Homo sapiens: one gene and its partners. The protein of the gene in region 2 purifies or fractionates together with the protein of the main gene of each other region. This does not show direct contact. Each region holds a gene or a part of one and is shown on either strand. Other genes may lie near its edges.

Region 1 (4,761 bases), on a different chromosome or scaffold from region 2:
GGTCTCGAACTCCCGACCTCAGGTGATCTGCCCGCCTTGGCCTCCCAAAGTGCTGGGATTACAGGCGTGAGCCACTGCGCCTGGCCATTAGCCATTATTAGACTATTACAAGAATCTTGTGCCACAGAGATTATTCTTACCAGCTCTATTTAACATATGTAGTCAATAGCCATGTGTTGTTGTGGAGTATAATAATAGATTAGCCTCAAGAAAACTATAAATTAACAAACTAAGTGACCTGCTCAGAATGACACAGCCCACACATGGCAGAGCTAAGACTGGAACTCCAGTCATCAACTCCTTTGCACACTCACACATTTCACACTTTAACACACTGTCTCCTTCAGGCATGGAGATTTGAGAAGTCCCACGGATCAGCATCAAGAACAGATTTCAATCTCTACAGAGCGACAGTATCTCCAGGAATCTTTCAAGATTCACCAAACAAAATTCATTTCCATTCGTCTTCATATTCCACGAAAACACACCAAAGCTGCCTTAGGGAGAGGGTGTCGCCCCATCAGAGGTGTCAAGGACCATGCAAGGCCAGGGGTCACACTGGCCTCAACAATGTTTCAGACAAAAACGGCTCCCTTGGGAGGCTCCGAGGCTGTCATCGATTTGCTAAAGGTCAGTACGGATCATTTGGGAATGGATTTGTGTAGGCATGGCCTAAGACACATGGACTTCTGCCAAGCCTATATATTTTTTTCAAAACATCTGCACTGTCTTCACCCTTGATAAATAGCAGCCAGGCTACAGAAATATTTCCATTACGCACAAAAGCCTGCTTTGCCACCACAACTCATTGAAATGGATGTTTCCAACTTGAGAAGAACTCTTCAATGAAAACATCTAAAAACACCCCAATCTTCCAGCAGAGGCAACCAATCTAGCATTCAGGAAACCTTTAAACACTAGTAAATAATATTTGTGGAAACAAATTCTTTGGTAGACATATGCCCCCATGCCCAAAGTCTAACTATATCTAATAAATAGGTTAAGCCCATTTCTTCTAGCTGTATTATGAACATTCATGCAAAGACATCCGCATAAACATTTTTGTAAAGGTTTTCCCATATTTCCAGAATGTGGTGAAATCTCCTTATGGCCATGCTGAAAAGAATTGGAATAAAAAGAATTTAACATTGTAGCCCTGGCTTTACCACTAAGTAGCTGTGTGATTTCACAAAATGAAAATAATAACAATAACAGCAGCAGCTAACATTTAATGAGGACTTACAATATGCAAAACATTGTGCTAGGGGCTTAATAAGTATTTGGTAGTAATTAACAATCATTATGTAATATTTTGGCCGGGCGTGGTGGCTCATACCTATAATCCCAGCACTTTGGGAGGCTGAGGTGGGCGGATCAGTTGAGGTCAGGAGTTCAAGACCAGCCTGGCCAACATGGTGAAACACTGTCTCTACTAAAAATACAAAAATTAGCTGGGCATGGGGTAATGGAGGGCGCCTGTAATCCCAGCTACTCAGGAGGCTGAGACAGGAGAATTACTTGAACCCGGGCGGGTGGAGGCTGTGGGTGACAGAGCAAGACTCCACCTCAAAAATAAAAAATAAAAAAAAAACACCAAAAAACCATTTGGTAATATTATTACTCCCACTGTATGGATCAGGAAACTAAGACTCAGAGAGATTGAGTAACTTGCCCCAAGAACACAGCAGCAACTAGCAGAGGCTGGGATGAAGCACAGGCATTCTGATTCAGTATTCTTAATTACATACCATTGGTCTTTTCAAAGCACTTAACGACCCACAACCTCAGATTCCTCCAGGAGCCAACCAAGCAAGCAGTCTTCAGAATCCTTTCCAGCTGTAAAATTCAGTGATTCTCTCTTTTCAAAATAAAATGAATTTATAACTTTGAGAAATAAAATGTAATGATGCTCTAGTACTGCTGAGGGAAGGAAACATCTGTGTATGCCTCACCCAGAACCAGTCAGGGGAGGAAAACTGCTGATTTTCTAGGGTAATGATGTCCTGTGAACCAACCAGACTGGCCTCAAGCCGTCTCAGGAAAAATGACAGCTTGAAGTTCTCAAAGGATCCACCAACATGCAAAGGTCTGCAAGTTCGCAACTATCAGTTCTCAAACTTTAATTTGACTTTTTTTTTTTTAAAGGAAACTCATATGCAAGAAAATGCTGCACCGTAGAGGCTGATCTTAAGAATGCCAGTACAAGATGTATGTTGACTCTGTGGCATGCTCACACTTGCTTTCCTTTCAGGTGTACACCTGCTCAGGGAAAATCCACCCGGCCCAGGCAATCTGTTTTAAGACTTCCCTAGCTCGAGGCTCAGTGGTCCTGTAATTGGGTGGGGGTTTTGTCCTTTGCACATCTGATATCTTCATACGCTCCCTCCTGCTCATCATCACCAGCCCGGTCTCTGGACACACAAACACGCAAGTGCTGCCTTCCCCAACTCCATCTCGGACGCATCTTCTTCCTCTCTCTGCTCAACACAGGAGTTCCCTGTTCACACACCTTGCCATTGGCTGACACAGCCAATGGTGAAACTCCCCCAGCTGACCCTCCCTGGAGCTCACTAGCTCTCTCCCAGCTGTGGGTACAGCCTGAAACCGAAACTAATCTCAGACCAGAGCAAAGTGAAATCATTTCAGGAGCCTGATCACCCTACATGACCACAGAGAGGCTTCCCCTTAACAGAGCTCCAAATCCAGCTTGCTGGTCACCAGGAGAAAAAAAAAAAAAAAAAGCTTTGCAGTGCCCTCCTAACATCAAATACTTTCTTAATGAATAGGGAATCATGGGATTAGAGGAGGAAGCAAAAGTTCTTGCCGTCGTGTTTGCTGCTGCTACTTCTCTCTTATTTGCACAAGTCTATTTCAGTTCACCCCGTGAGCTAAAGTTCACCACCCGGTATTATTTTTAAACTCATTGTCCAGCATCCGTTCATATTTGGTTCACTCTTAATCAGATTATCTTCCAAGAGCAAGCTTTGTTCTCTTCTGAGATCCCTGTAACCATCTTGCTGTAATGTGGCTGAGACTGTTATACTACATGTTTTTCGTAAATTTGAAAAACGAAGCGTTTTACTTTTGTGCTCGAGCCAGGCACGGTGGCTCACACCTGTAATCCCAGTACTTTGGGAGGCTAAGGCGAGTGGATCTCTTGAGCTCAGGAGTTCGAGACCAGCCAGGCCAACATGGTGAAACTCCATCTTTACTAAAAACACAAAAAAATTAGCTGTTTGTGATGGCGTATGTCTGTAATCCCAGCTTCTCGGGAGGCTGAGACACAAGAATCATTTGAAACTGGGAGGCAGAGGTTGCAGTGAGCTGAGATCACACCACACTGCACTCCAGCCTGGGTGAAAGAGCAAGACCCTGTCTCATAAATAAATAAATAATAAAAAATAAAAACACTTTTGTGCTTGGAACAATACAAAAGAAAAAAAGCAAAAGCCATTATGACTGAACATAATGTCAGGCCTTGATGATCCTTCAAAGAAGTATAAATGTTGAGAAGGATCCTAAACTGTGTTTTCTCTTCTTACCCTTGCCCCCAGCATACTTGTGGGCAGCTTTCTTTGTGGCTAGGCAGTATTATGAAAAAAAGCCTACTGTCAGCTTAAGCAAAACAGAATAAGAAGGGTTAAGTGCACTGGCCTAACAAGGGTATGGTCAAAGAGAAATTAAGTCTTGGATTATCTGTTATTTACTCATTCATCCAACAAAGTTTACTGAGGGCCTCATATATATGCCTAAAACTCTTCTAGGTGCATCTAGGAGATAACCCACTAGCTCCAACTGAGAGTGCCATTCTCAGAAACACTGTGTGTATGGGGGCTGATGCTTTCTGTATTCCAATACCAAGACAAATGCTCCACTACTTCCAGGTTTCCTGAGCTCTCCTCACACGGCTTGGACTCCATCCCCGAGAGCTGTAGGTCCCTCCCAGTGAGCACCCCCGGGTGATGCTGACCAGGAACATTGCGGGCCAGGGTCACCTGGCCCAGAGCTGTTGGGCAGACTCTGTTTGTGCCTTGGCTCACTCATTCATGGATGAGCTGCTCAGTGTTATCGGGCATTCTTCAATCACTCCAACAGTCAAAGGAGGGGTTAGGCCAAATTTAAGTAATCTTCTAGCTCAAAAATTCCAGCTCCTTTTATCCTCCGATCACCGAGCTGACATGGACCTCTAGGGGCCTCTACTTCATCTTCCTGTCTCCAGATGAAACCTCTTAAACCACAAAGACAAATGAAACTTGTTCCCATTTCTGAAGACCTTCAGGGGAGGCCATTCCCCTCTGTGCCTATGAGTCACTTTTCTTACATCTCACATCCTATCTGGAATGTCTTCCTCATACCTTACTTGAATCCTCCCTCTGTAGTTTAAATTCATTTGCCTCTGGTTCTAAGTGCAGAGAGACAAGAGTGAATCACTGTGTTCTGAGCAATGACTCTTAAGGGACTTTTATGTCTTCTTCACCATGTTCACTGCAGGCATTACAAGAGGTGGCAGTGTTTCTCAGCTGTTAAAAACCACAAAGGCATCAGGAAAGCTGACCACACTGCCCAGTTCCTGCCTCACCCTGGCAAGGGTGCTACAGAATCCAGAAAACCTGACCCTTCTCTGAAACCCACACCGCTACTTAGCTCTACTCAGAGTTCACCAAGGGGGAGAACAATGTGCTCCCATGCCAGATCAAAAGCCCAGGAGGCAGCAGCCACTTTATCTTGTCCTCACTCAGCTCAAGCGGCCCCTCCTCCAGG
Region 2 (5,110 bases):
AAAGGCCTCGGACATTGGTGCTGAGAAAGGAAGAGGTGCTTAGGGGCTTGCAGGGGCCCTGATAACTGGAAAGAAGCCATGAGGATGGCAGCATCTGCCCAGACACACTCATCCTCCCCAGCCGCCTTGCCCTGGAGCACAGGCCTGCACAGCAGCACAGGGAGCCCAGGAGACAGAGGACTGCCAGGCTCTGCCAGGGGGCACAGGGCCCTCCCTGCCATGCTGACCAGCCAGCCGTGCCTTCCCAGCCCCTTCCAAGCCCCTTGGGAGGGGGCTTCCTGACACAGGTGGTCACCTAGGGATGGGGAAGGCGGGGAACTTGGAACTGCCCTCGCCAACTGCACATGGGCCAGGCCAGGCATGGGGACGGAGGAGACACAGGTCCTCATACCTGCCCCAAACACCTCCTACAGCTCCCACGCCTGACACTCCCCCATCCCAAAGGCACAATCGGCCAGCCAGACCCCTAGCCTCCCCTAGGAAGATGGAGAGAATGGCAGCGGGGTCTTGGCCTCCGCCAGGGGACTGCAGGTGCTGCTGGTGGCGGAGGCGGGGCATGGCCACTGTTTCCCCCTCCTACTCAGTGCCTGGCTCCTGCGGAGTGTCCACTGAATGGCTGGATGAGCAGAGGAGGCAGGAGTCACTGGGGAAACTGTTCCCAAGGCAGAGTCCCAGACCAGACCCCAAACTCGTACTGCTGGGAAGAGCTCTCCGCTCTGTGGATGCCTCAGAGCCAGCCTAGAGAGACCCCCTCATGGTAACAGGCAGCCTCTTTTACAGTGAAGTGCCCCTGGGTCCGGCAGTGCTCAGCACCTGGTGGGTCCGGCAGTGCTCAGCACCTGGTGGGGCCGGCTCCTCCGCCTCAGCACCGCTCACATCCACTCAGATGAGTCTTTGTTGCGGGACTGCCTGTGCACTGTAGGACGCACTGTACAGATGAGTCTTTGTTGCAGGGCCGCCCGCGTACTGTAGGACACATTGTAGGATTCCCCCTTATGATGCCAGACACTGCAAATGTCCCCTAGACATTTGGCAGAATCAGCCCTGATCGAGACTCCTGAGCTGAGTGTAAATGAATCAGATCGCTCCCCTAATACTGTATACGGGGAACAGGCATTTCTTAAAAGAAGTTAGAAGTAGGGAATTAGGAGGCAGGAAGCCTGGCTGCGTGGGGGCATTCCTGGGTGGAGAGGACCTGGGTTAGGGGACCCTCAGGGCAGAGAGAGGGAAATGGATAGCATGGCCACACCCATAGTATTAGCAAGGCCTGAGTCTGTGTCCAGGAGAGAATGGAGGTTTCTTCCTCATCAGCTGCCACTCTTTTCTCTTTTGGGGAACCATCAACTGGGCTAATACACCAGATCGGGAAGTGGAGCAAGGGCCTGGGCCGAGCTGCCTCTGGTCATCGTGCTGGAATGCATCTTGTGTTTTATGAAACATCACACAGAGTCCTTTGCTAAGCTACGCTGAAGCCGTAGGAGGAACAGCCACACCTCGAGGAGGGACAGCTCCCAGTTCCAGGTTACTCAGAAAAAAAGGAGAAATAGCTCGGTGCAGCCGGATCTCTGCAAGCCCCAGCTCAGCTCCAGAACGGAGCTCTCAGGGGGAACACTGTATGTGCACATTAACAAAACGAGGCCCAGACAGGGATGTGGACCACTGTGTGGACACAATTCACTGGCTGCCGAATGTCTTCACCTGCCACGCAGTGTGCAGCCCTGAAGGGACCTCTGAACATCGCTCTGTCACCTTCCTGATTTCAGGGAAGGGAGGCTCTGCAGGTGGGGCAGCCAGCGCTTCCCGGGAAAGGGCATCACACAAATCTGCCGCCACATGACACAGAAGACACTTTTTTGACACTTTTTGCTTTTCTGCTGGGCCTCTTGGTTGGTAAGGGTGTGGCCAGTGTGCTGGTGTTCAGGACACAAGGTGCTATGAACAGGGACAGCAAGCGGGGCTGGGTCTGCACCAGGAACAGAGCAAGGAGCTGCCTGACCCACACTAGGGAGAGAGAAGCCAACACCAGGGCAAGTCTGGGAGGAAGACTGGGGAGCGCCCAGGCAGGGGACAGAAAACTCCCTGTGTGCCTGCGCACAGAGACCCCAAGCGTTCTGGAGCTCCTGGAGAGAAGGCCAAGGAAGGCTGTGCTTGTTTCCACCAAGTCCAGGGGTGGCGTTCACAGCCCGTAATACATTAAGGCAAAGCAGCGATGTCTGAGCCTTCTGCGGTTCTGAAACTGCTGCTGTGATGAGATTTTCTCCCTGTCCTCTCTCAAAACACAGGTGAATCCCATACACTGTGTGTTTAGAACTTCAGAAGAATTAGTCCTCCCTCTGTCCAACAATCTACAGGCATCAGGATGCCAAAGTGTTCAGTGCGTCTGGATGGCGCAGCTCTGTGGACACCAGACAAAGGACCCCAGGATGCTGTGGAGGCTCGAGGAAAGTAACACAACAGGGCCAGAGGGGCTTGTGGACTGAACTGGGCATCCAGAGAGAGGACAGAAGGGGCAAGAGAGGATGCAGGGGGCAAGAGGAGGAAACGGCTGTCAAGGGTGCACGTCTTCCCCTGGCATCCCATCTCCTCCCCGAGGCTGCCCCGTCTAGCCCTCACCATGGTCTGAAGATAGCACTCGGTAGCACCCACCCCTTCCTTCTCCCCACTACCTGCAGGAGCTGCAGAGCAGACAGCAAACCTCAGCTCTGCCCATATGGATGGCTGCACCAATGATCCTAGTGAAGTGTGAGCCTGCACTCCTGAGAGGGGTCCCAGGGCCAGCGGCCACCCCAGGAAACCCACCTGGACAGCTGCACCCCATACCCTGGACAGGCTCTGTAAGTCAGGGTGGGAGCCGGAACTGCACAGCCCTGTTCCTGAAGAGGGATGCTCCGTAAGGACCGGCTCCTGTGCTCAGCATACCGCAGGGCTCCACACTGTGGAGACTCGGCCTCGCTGCCCATCACGGAAGCCAAGGATTTATACGCTCGCTGAACTCACCGCTCCTAACCCTCTGGCTGGAAGCCATCAAAACCACAGCCTGTAAAACAGGCTTGGGACAGCAGCCCCTGGTCTCTCAAGTTTGATCATAGTGCAGTTTGGCTTGAGGGTCCACCGCCGACAACCCCACCCTCCACAACCCCACCCTCCACAACCCACCGCCGACAACCCTACCGCCGACAAGCCCACCGCTGACAAGCCCACCGCCAACAACCCCACCGCCGATCCCCAGGAAGCTCCCGAGGCCTTAAGCTCCAGGCGTCCTCCAGCTCATGGCACCCATGTGCTGCCGGCACGTTTAGTGACGATGAGCGCGTGATTTGTCCCCGCAGCACCTCCAGGACCCAGCTCAGGACAGGATTTTACAACACAATGAATCTCACAAGTGCACTGCCAAGCCAGAGGAGCCAGGCACGAGGGACCACCCAGGGCCGGTCCCGTTCGTGCACAGCTCAGAAGCTGGCAAAGCCACGTCGGGCAGCAAAGATCCAGGGGAGACCTGGGAGGGGTCACGCAGGCTTCTGGGGGGACTGCTGTGTCTGTATGTTCACTGGGTGCTGGTCACACTGGTGTGTTCAGTTTGTGGGGACTCACTAAGTGGAACACTTACGAGGTGCGCTTCGCCCCGTTTGTTACATGTCAACTGAAAGCACTCCCGGCCTCTGAACCCTGATGGGCTCCTAAGCCTCTTGCAGCTGCCTGACTCTGGAGCCGGGGCGGCCAGGGTACTCACCTGCGGCAGCCCGTCCTCCCGCCTCCGGCTCTGGTTCGGGCGGTTGATGAAGGACCGCGTGGAGACTTTGTAGTGGTTCAGCAGGCAGACGATGACCACCACCATCACCGTGACCACCACGACGATGATGATGATTTGGGCGAACTCCAGCTCCGCTGCCATGGAAGAGGAGAGTGGTTAGCCACCTGGCCCCTCCAGTCCCCACCCATTCTCCAGGCACTGTCACCACCCCAGCCATCAGGCCCTGAAGGCCTCTCACACACGTCTGTTCCTCAGAGGCCAGCAGGACACAGAAACGACTGTCCCACTTTAGGGAAGGAGACACCACGGCACAGTCGGGAGGCTGTGCAAACCAGCTGCGGGGAGCGGGAAGCCTCTGCCATCCCCCACCACAGGGAGCTGAGAACGTCTCCACAAACTGAAGCTATTTCTCCAATGTCACCGCTCTAGAAAAGTTAAACCCGTCTTTATGGTTGAGTGGAGTTTCTCAAAGCAATTCCCCTAGGGACCCATACTTGAAAGGAAAAATCAACTTCAGCCCCTTGCCTCCAAGGCTGTGGCTCTGCAGGTGAGTTAGGAAACATCCACATTGTTTCCAGGCCTTCAGGCACAGCACTTTAGGAGTGGTCAGGTCTCCCCTGGGTTTCTGACACCACCACCCCAAAGATTCCTTAAATGCCATTGACACACACTTCACATGTGAGTCCAGCAACACAGAGTGACTTCCAGTCACAGCACATTGGGCCGGCAGCTGGAAGCAGGTGAGCCAGACCCCCGTTTTGGGAGAGGAAGCAGGTCGAGGGCTCACGGGCGGCCTGGAGCCACTTTCTGCTCCCCTCTTCCAGCCCATGGCTCTGCTGCCTGCTTCACTCCTTGTCCCCCGTGCTGGAAGGAAGTGACTGACCGTGCAGTGATGTAAATTCAGAGCAAGGGGCTCGGGGATGCTAAGAGGAAGACAGTGCAGGAATCTGGGGGAGGCAGGAGTAAGAAGAGAGAAGCCATCAACTGTGCTGCCCTGGGCTCACAGCACACATGCACACACATGCATGCACGTACATGTGCCGCAGCAGGGCTCAGGCCCCGGCCAGTGGGGAGGCATATCTGTCAAGTGTATCCGCTCATACGTGGGGCGATGCAGGCAGAGATCAGGTGGTGCCTCCCCAGTGGCTACGACTGTGTGCGTCTGCTGCCCACACCCTGGGAACCGAGGGTGAGGCTGGACGAGGGGTTCTCTGGATCCCCACATGTCCTACCCTTCAGCACGGCCCTCCACTTCCACCCTCAGACCCCCACACCCTAGGGACTGAGGGTGGGAGTGGAGGGCAGTGGGACACTGGGGCCTATAGGAGAGGCGCTGGTGTCTTGAGAATGAAGAGCAGA
Region 3 (4,761 bases), on a different chromosome or scaffold from region 2:
CTCTTCCAAAAGAGTATCTCAAATTCCAGCTTGGGGGTATCTTTGGCCTTTACATAGAGTGGGCTGTTCAGGATCCAGTAAATGCCATCCCAGACACAGACAAGTTGTTTCCTTTCATCTAACTGCAATGAAAGCTCATTGCTTCAACTTACCCCTTGTGCACCAAATTGGTGTTCCACAGTTCCCAGCAAAGATTCCAGCGGGTTCCTGTCTGCTACAGAGGGGTAGGGAGTTTAAAGTCTAATATTATATCTCACTTGTGGCTATAAAAAAAAGATCTTCATTAAAGTTTCTGGTCCAAGCTACCTCATTAGGAAATGCAATTACAGACTGGCTGATCAAATCATTCACAATAACCATAAACTAATTTATCCTTTATAGGGTGCTTTTCATGAGGATCTCTAAACTAGATAAACAGTTGTAAGAATTAAAGCAGAATAATGGGAAGAGTCTGGATTTTGGAGTGAGCCAGACCTGGATTCCAACCCCACCTTGGCCACTCGCTACCCATGTGTTCTGGGCCTCAGTTCCCTCATCTGTCAAAGTGGAGTAATGGCAATGGTGGTGGTGGTGCTGGTGAACAATTACTGCATGCTTACCACATACTGCAGGCGCCATTCTAAAGGCTTCCACGTCGTAACTCATCTAATCCTCTCAATAACTCTAAGGAAGGTTGGGTATCACCTGCATTTCACTGCTGAGGAACTAAGGCACAGAGCAGAAGTAATTTCACAAGGCCATAGAACTGGTGGGGCTGGGATGGGGCTGGGATGTGGCAACCACATGCAATGTTTTTGCTTGGACCCCAAGTTCTGTCTAAATCTTTCATCACAATAGTTTGGACTAAATCACTCATTCCAATGATAAATATTCTCAAATGTCCTTATCTCCTTTTTTGGCTGAATTCAACAATTGTTCTTGATAACACATAAACAAGCCCTCACGAATAGCTTTAATTACAGCTGAGGCCAACTATGGGGAAACACCTCCAAGAATGAGTCAGACTAAGGAAATTTTCTTTCCTTTTTCTTTTTTTTGAGACAGAGTCTAGCTCTGTCACCCAGGCTGGAGTGCAGTGGGACAATCTTGGCTCACAGCAACCTCCACCTCTGGGGTTCAAGCGATTCTCCTGCCTCAGCCTCCCCAGTAGCTGAGACTACAGGAGTGCGCCACCACGCCTGGTTAATTTTTGTATTTTTAGTAAAGATAGGGTTTCACCATATTGGCCAGGCTGGTCTCAAACTCCTGGCCTCAAGTGATCTGCCCACCTTGGCCTCCCAAAGTGTTGGGATTACAGGTGTGAGCCACCGTGCTCAGCCAGGAAATTTTTTTTTTTTTTTTGAGATGGAGTTTCACTCTTGTTGTCCAGGCTGGAGTGCAATGGCACGATCTCAGCTCACCAAAACCTCCGCCTGCCAGGTTCAAGTGATTCTCCTGCCTCAGCCTCCTGAGTAGCTGGGATTACAGCCATGGGCCACCACACCCAGCTAATTTTGTATTTTTTTTTAGCACAGATGGGGTTTCTCCATGTTGGTCAGGCTGGTCTTGAATTCCCGACCTCAGGTGACTCGCCCACATTGGCCTCCCAAAGTGTTGGGATTACAAGCATGAGCCACCGTGCCTGGCCAGAAATTTTTATAAAAAAGAAGTTAGGGGCCAGGCACGGTGGCTCACGCCTGTAATCTCAGCACTTTCGGAGGCCGAGGTGGGTGAGGATCACCTGATGTCAGGAGTTCGAGACCAGCCTGGCCAACATGGTGAAACCCCGTCTCTACTGAAAATACAAAAAATTAGCCGGGCGTGGTGGTGGGTGCTTGTAATCCCAGCTACTCAGGAGGCTGAGGCAGGAGAATCACTTGAACCCAGGAGGCAGAGGTTGCAGTGAGCCAAGGTCGTGCCACTGCACTCCAGCCTGGGTGACAGGGCGAGACTTTGCCTCAAAAAAAAAAAAAAAGAGAGAGAGAGAGAAGAAGTTAGGGTTAGGCTTAACACAACCCAATCACATTAACCCTAAACTTAACAGAGCCAACAAAGAGTTCCCTCTAGGCTTAAAAAATAACAACAAAACAGGAGGTGGGAGGGTGGTGGTGATTACCTTTATATCTCTTTTTTTCCTCCTCGGTCAGATGTTCTGTGCGTATTTTGGTGATCACATTCACATTGTTTACTGTGTAAACCTGAGAGGTGTATGCGAAAGAAAACAGTGACACAGGGAATCAAAACTCCAAAAGTAAGCACAGCAAAAGCAAGAATGCTGAAGCAAAAAACAGAAAACAATCCAGCAAAATAAAAATGAGAAATGGTTAACTATCATTAGGATCCTTCAGAGAAAGTATATAAACTATCAACTGAAAAATGCATCAGCAGTTACCTCCCATGTTTGACAGTTTTAATACTAAGGAGTTAGCAGTGACAGGCTGCATCTTCCTGCTTGCCCTGCTGTGGCTAAATAGTCTCAAACAAATGCCCTGCAATCTAGGTTTCCACCTGGGTTTCTATTAAACTAAGGTACCCAAACCAGGATCCTGTACTTCTGTTGGTAATTTTTTTTTTTTTTTTTTTTGAGACAGAGTCTCCCTCTGTTGCCCAGGCTGGAGTGCAGTGGCGTGATCTCTGCTCACTGCAGCCTCCGCCTCCTGGGTTCAAGCGATTCTCGTGCCTCAGCCTCCAGAGTAGCTGGGATTACAGGCATGTGCTACTATGACTGGTTAATTTTCGTATTTTTAGTAGAGACGGGGTTTCACCATGTTGGCCAGGCTGGTCTCAAAATCCTGGCCTCAAGTGATCTGCCTACTTGGGCCTCCCAAAGTGCTGGGATTACAGGCGTGAGCCACTGCACCCAGCCTCCGCTGGTAGTCTTGTAATACTAGTATGACTCAGACAGCCATCTGCTGGGCAGAAGAGAAAGGTATGAACACAAGGTTCTCTATAGACTTATGAGCTGTAGAGAAAACCAGCAAGTCACTATTTAAAAGGCATTCTGTGCACTGACAAAAATTATTGTAACTGCCAGAGCAAATGCTCTGTTATCAAGGATAACTGGGGAATATGGTGGTCTAGAAAATCAAACATAACAGTTAACAAAGAATTCTCTCTATATGCCACGTGAGGAGCCCCAACATTCAAAGCTGCAGAAAACACACTCAGCACTATGACAAGTGCTTCTAAATGTATCTTGCTGAGCATGACGTAAGCCTTTCTTTGCTCACTCAGAGGCCACCAGAGGACCCTGCAGCACTGGGCTCCAACACCAAAAGCCATCAATCCCTGTTGTACTGAGGGACTGAAAGGCCAGGAAACAGCTTTCCAGCTGACAAAATGCCAGATGACTGGATCAACAATCGTCTCCACTATTACAACTATGTTTTAAATGCACTGATGTCATGCAAATGGGCTGTGCGCCTGCTGATTACAATTAAGCTGATTTAACAAAAAAGAGACTCAAAAGCTACTACACAACATTTGAACACATGTGAAGTCTAATCCTTCCTCTTCCTTTTTTTTTTTTAAATAATTAAGGGAATGACTAGCTTGTCATTCCTACCAGAACAACTGGTACCTGTACTCATTTCTCTACCATATTGTTTCTCTTTAGCATAGCTACAGACCTCCTCAGGGCATGCTATCCCATTTTCTGAAAGTCAAATAAGACAAAATCAAACATCCAAGTGAGAGACACATTAGACAGTTCTCATTCCCCAGAGCATCTCCATGGCACAGATGCATGAAAAAAATGGGAACAGATTCCTCATTTGCATAGAAGCTAAATAGCTATATTAAATCTTATTTTAAGAGTTTCCTTTTACCTTTGCTTCGTAACCATTAACAACTTCTGCTTTATCTGTCCTCCAGCCCCAGAATCCGGATTTAGTTCTGATAAAAAGTGAACACCACAAATTTCTACATGTACAATATGCCATTCAGATTTATATCTGTAGCCTTTATAGTTTTTTTCCCCCCCAGCTTAAGTTAGTGAAGGACACTTGGAAATCATGGTCCTATTGTCCACAGGAGGCGGTTAGCAATGACAGATGGCTTATGCACCCTCCACCCTCCTCCCACAGTTATTAATCAATTTGCCTCACCCCAGGCATAGAAAGCCTCCAATCTTGGCTTCTTTACAAAACTGCCAGCATTGAGGACAAAGGTGGTGACATTTATTGGACAGCAGTCCCAAAGAAGTGACTGAAGATGACCAGCATCCAAGGGCTTGCCACAAGGTGGTAACCAGGTCAGAGCATTTATCTGGGTCATCTTAACTGGGGACATGCATGTCAATGGTGGGATCTCCACAAGTAGCCACATCTCACTCGAGGAATTCTTAGAACAATGAGGCACAGACCATCCTGCTCCTTACAAAAGAGCAGGTGGGCCAGGAACTCATCACTGTGGTGAGCTGCTTGGAGATGCCATTAGGTCTGCAAAATAGCTGAGTCACATGTTTGGGCAGGTTTGGTGCAGCAGGGCAAAGGATGTGAAAAACAGATTTTTTTAGCCCAGCTGTTAATTCCATCTCTGTGGAACTCCTTTTAAAGTAGCCCAGCATTCCAGTGGCAGATGCAGCATTGGTAATATGCCCAAAATCTCAGTTATTCAACTCAACATACTCCTGAAAAAAAATGTATTTAGGAACCAAAAGCAGCCAGGAGGCTCTGATTCTTTTTCAAAGCAGCTTGCCCTGGGAAACGCTCCCTCTCACAGGGGATCCCTGACCAGCCCTACCCTTTGTCTAGGACATCACATCCCAGCTCCTCTTGGCCC
Region 4 (4,761 bases), on a different chromosome or scaffold from region 2:
TATGAACGTGTGCTACGTGGTTTGAATTCAGTCAGGATTTATAGAAAATGTTATTTTGTAATAATTCAGAAAATGTTTTAAGCGTTTGTGAATATGTATATGAAATTCACATACTCACCTTTAACATTGTTATATAAATTTAGGACAGAAAAGTTCTAAGCATCTCATGACGATCTTAGGAAATTATATGAAATGAATGATAGGCTGACATTTGCAATAGGAAGAACTCAGTTCTTAGCATAGCTTTCTACCAGAATGGGGATCTTCTTTATTTCTTTGGGCTTCACTCTCTTGAAACAACTGTAAGTTACTGGAACATAAAAATAATTTTCGTAACCTTTTTTCTCCAAGCTAACAATGAGCCTTTGAGAGTTCATATTCTGCCTAGACCCCTGCATAGAGTTTGAATATGTGAAAGTTGCAGAGGCTTTGTGCTGTAGAGTGTTGGGAGAGCTCCCTGGATTTGCATAGCTCTAACAGTCTCATGTTTGGGTAGGCAGAGCACTGTTTTACCCACACAAGAAGGGATATGAAGGCAAATTCAGGATGTATGGCAATAAACTTTGCACACTAAACAAAATCAGCAGACATTGAACTGACTTCAAGTCACTTACGAGCAATCAGACTGAGAGTTGGGGTGCAGAAGAGGGTGTGCTGGATTTCCCCATCTGGACCTTGACTTGCCATTTATTGTGTCTGTCACAGCAGGAGTTGAGTGGGAGGAAGCTACGAAAGTGACTCTCTCATCTGTTTTCCCCACTCATTAAAACAACACTCTCCATCTAGTACAAGATCTAAGCCAGGCTGATGACACACTGTCAGGAAACCTTGGACAGGTCCACTCTGCTTCAACCTTGACACAAAACAAAAGCTGTGCTTTCTGTCCTGACAGGGAAGCAAATGGGGAGTTCAGATAGGAGAGGAAAGTGAAGAATGACTAATATTTATCTAGTGTTTACATTTAGAGTAGGAAGTTTCTTGACAAAGCTTTCTGCCTGGTTTGGGACCTTCCTTATTTCCTTGGCCTTCACTCTCCATTTCAGTTATGATCAGCCTGAAACCCCTGTAGATTGCTGGGACGTGAAAGTATGTTGGAATGGGGGAAGCAGATGGGGAACTCAGTTAGGAGAGGAAGGGGAAGAGGGACCAATATTTATCTAGTGCTTAATCTGTGCCTGGCAATTGGTGAGCACTATGTTTAAATGATCTCATTTACAAGTGGCTTAATTGTATGGCTTGATTATTCCTTAAATATTTGACACTGTGTTTAAATATAAACACTCAAATATATTTGCATGCAAGTTGTAGATTAGTTTTAAATTAACTACAGTTCTCTGCTTTCTTTTACTCCAATAATAGAGTTGACATAGAATACATGTATTTAGAAGGAAATTATTCAGATTTTCACTAATGCTATTTGCAGATGGCTGGCCTGGGGAAACCTTGGGAAACTCAGATGAGGACTAAATAGTGTTGCACAAGGCAAACAGAGCTCCCCAAGACAGCTGTTTGCCCTCTCTTTTTCCTAAAAGCTGTTGAACTCAGGAAAACTGTGGGTCGTTCTCTACTTTCTGTGTGTCTCACTCTCTGCCACCGTGGGCCCTCAGTGTTGTAACAGTTCAGCCTTGACGTGTATGAGAAAATTACAAGGTAGAAAACCCATGCCCAGCCATATGATCATAGGTGTTCCATGTGAGTAGAAACCAGTGTCAGCAAAGGTGTGCAAAAAGTGTGCACTTGAGCCCTCTTCATGGGAACACTCACTGGCAAAACATTTCTAGGGGATAGTTTGATGAAGGGAAGGTAAGAAAAAAATTGTGCAGTCCTTTGGCAGAGTGATAATGTTGCCTCTAGAGCAGGGGTCTCCAAGCCCCCGGCCATGGACCAGTACTGGTCTGTGGCCTGTTAGGAACCCAGTCTCACAGCAGGAGGTGAGCGGAGGGTGAACAAGCATTACAGCCTGAGCTCTGGCTCCTGTCAGATGAGTGGCAGCATTAGATTCTCATAGGAGTATGAACCCTATTGTGAACTGCACATGCGGGGGATCTAGGGTACGTGCTCCTTATGAGAATCTAATGCCTGATGATCTGAGGTGAAACAATTTCATCCCAAAACCATCGCCCCCACCCTCCAGCCCATGGAAAAATTGTCTTGCAGGAAACCAGTCCCTGGTGCCAAAAAGACCGGGGACCGCTGCTCTAGAGGTTTAGTTTGCAGAAGGGAGCTCTGCACAAGACTGTTTGTAGCTGCATTGCTTTATAATGGCAAAATGGGAAACAATTAAAGTATCTGTCTGTAAAGAATTGGTTAAATAGTACATATGAGAACTAGCAGCTTTTAAAAACAGTAGAATAGATCTTTATGCACTGAGATGGAAAAATGGTTCCACGTTTTATTGTTCAGTATACAGTCCCAGAATAATTCCATTTTTGTAAAAACAACTCAAGAGCATCTGCCAGGGTTTTCCAGAGGGACAGAACTAATAGGATAGATGTGGCCGGGCGCGGTGGGTCACGCCTGTAATCCCAGCACTTTGGGAGGCTGAGATGGGCAGATCATGAGGTCAGGAGATCGAGACCATCTTGGCTAACACGGTGAAACCTTATGTCTACTAAAAATACAAAAACTTAGCTGGGCGTGGTGGTGGGCACCTGTAATCCCAGCTACTCAGGAGGCAGAGGCAGGAGAATGACGTGAACCTGGGAGGTGGAGCTTGCAGTGAGCCGAGATCACACCACTGCACTCCAGCCTGGGCGACAGAGGGAAACGCCATCTCAAAAATAAAAAAAGGATAGATGTATATATGAAATGGAGTTTATTAAGGAGTACTGACTCACACGATCACAAGGTGAGGCCCCACAATAGGCCATCTGCAAGCTGAGGAACAAAGAAGCCAGTCTGAGTCCCAAAACTTCAAAAGTAGGGAAGCTGACAGTGCAGCCTTCAATCTGTGGCTGAAGGCCCAAGGTCCCCTGGCAAACCACTGGTGTAGACCCAAGAGTCCAAAAACTGAAGAACTTGGAGTCTGATGTTCAAGGGCAGGAAACATCCAGCACAGGAGAAAGATGGAGGCCAGAAGACTCAGCCAGTCTAGTCCTTCCACAATTCTTTTGCCTGCTTTTATTCTAGCCATGCTGGCAGCTGATTAGATGGTACCCACACAGATTGAGGGTGGGTCAACCTCTCCCAGTCCACTGACTCAAACATTAATCTCCCTTGGCAACACCCTCACAGACACACCCAGAAACAATACTTTGATCCTTCAATCCAATCAAGTTGACACTCAATACTGACCATCACAGCATCTATGTATATAATGATATCTGTGTCTGTATGTGTGTCTGACATTGGAGAAAGATACAGCAGATAGCAAATATTGTATGTTCTCACTTATAAGTGGGAACTAAGCTACCAGGATGCGAAGCATAATAATGGTACGGACTGTGGACTCGGGAAGCGAGGAGTGGGGTGAGGGATAAAAGACTACACATTGGGTACACTTTACACTGCTCTGGTGGTGGGTGCACCAAAATCTCAGTAACTGCCACTGAATAACTTATCCGTGTAACCAAAAACCACTTGTTTCCCAAAAGCTATTGAAATAATTTTTTTTTTTTTAAAAAGGTCCAGCAGGATATATGCTGGATTGTTTATAGAAGTCACCTCTGAGAAATGCTATTGGAGATGATGGTGACTTTCATTTCTTAAAATGTATGTAGGTCTATATTTTGATACTTTTATAATGACTGATTATTATAAATTAAAGGTGTTATTTAAAAAGGGAAAATGATGTACATACCTGCTACGGTGTTTGCCTCATGGTGGAGAGTGAGGGAGGGACTGCTACTAAACATAAGAGGGACTTGGGAATTTTTTTCTCTTATTTAAAAATAAAAAGGGATGCAATTATGACAAACATGAGCAGTTGTCAATTCTCTATAATTTTCCCATGTTTTTCTGTTTTTTAAAATTCCTCAAAAGGTAGATAGCAGCATCCAACAGTTATATCCATAAAACTGTTCTTGATTTAAGATAAATGGTACTGTTATTTTGAAGGACTTATTTAGGCAAATGTCATATGCCAATTTATAAAGATATGTTGCTTTTGAGATTTAATTATGTGTTTAAGATGTATGCTCAACACTACCAGAATTTCTTTAAATTGATTCATTCTAGAATATCGACTGTCCAATTTAAGATGTTTTGACCTACTGATTTTTTTACTTTATGACAGTGTTAAAGCCATATGCATTCAGTAGAAAGCATATTTCAAATACCCATACAACCATTCTGTTTTTCAGTGTCAGTACAGCATTCAATAAATTACATGAGATATTCAATGTTTTGTTGTAAAATAGCATTTGTATTTGATGATTTTGTCCAACTGTAAGCTAATATAAGTGTTCCTAGCATGTTTAAGGTAGGCTAGGCTAAGCCGTGATGTTGGGTAGATTAGGTGTATTAAATGCATTTTCAACTTATGATGGGTTTATTGGAACATACCCCATTGTAAGTTGAGGAGCATCTATACAATTAATGCAGCTTCCCTGTGAACTAAGCATATTTGTTCATTATAATTTTTTAAATCAATGTCATACGTTTTTCTGTGTGAATGGTGCTAGATACCTGGTCTCTCATAATCCTCACAACAAACCTATGTCATGGTTGTTTATTTCCCCATTTTACAAATGTGAAAACTAAGACCAAGGGAAGCTACCTGCCCAGAACCACATTCTTGATAAGTAGCTGAGGCAGAGTTTA

The links. Proteins that work in one complex are often made in the same cells at the same time.
Region 1: the proteins of LDLRAD4 (region 2) and CUEDC1 purify together in Homo sapiens (affinity purification with mass spectrometry; 4 studies listed by BioGRID and IntAct, with this or other methods). This does not show direct contact.
Region 3: the proteins of LDLRAD4 (region 2) and ANKRD13A purify together in Homo sapiens (affinity purification with mass spectrometry; 4 studies listed by BioGRID and IntAct, with this or other methods). This does not show direct contact.
Region 4: the proteins of LDLRAD4 (region 2) and DPY19L1 purify together in Homo sapiens (affinity purification with mass spectrometry; 4 studies listed by BioGRID and IntAct, with this or other methods). This does not show direct contact.

Annotation. Positions count from the first base shown.
Region 1 is NC_000017.11:57,944,424-57,949,184, forward strand, and holds part of CUEDC1 (CUE domain-containing protein 1), read right to left. Parts: intron 2,470-4,761; exon of another isoform or gene 1,749-2,469; intron 1-1,748.
Region 2 is NC_000018.10:13,619,892-13,625,001, reverse strand, and holds part of LDLRAD4 (low-density lipoprotein receptor class A domain-containing protein 4 isoform alpha 1), read right to left. Parts: intron 3,886-5,110; coding exon 3,731-3,885; intron 1-3,730. UniProt on the Homo sapiens protein: Functions as a negative regulator of TGF-beta signaling and thereby probably plays a role in cell proliferation, differentiation, apoptosis, motility, extracellular matrix production and immunosuppression.
Region 3 is NC_000012.12:110,023,158-110,027,918, reverse strand, and holds part of ANKRD13A (ankyrin repeat domain-containing protein 13A), read right to left. Parts: intron 3,874-4,761; coding exon 3,807-3,873; intron 2,178-3,806; coding exon 2,096-2,177; intron 215-2,095; coding exon 153-214; intron 1-152. UniProt on the Homo sapiens protein: Ubiquitin-binding protein that specifically recognizes and binds 'Lys-63'-linked ubiquitin. Does not bind 'Lys-48'-linked ubiquitin.
Region 4 is NC_000007.14:34,931,997-34,936,757, reverse strand, and holds part of DPY19L1 (protein C-mannosyl-transferase DPY19L1), read left to right. Parts: intron 1-4,761. UniProt on the Homo sapiens protein: C-mannosyltransferase that mediates the C-mannosylation tryptophan residues on target proteins.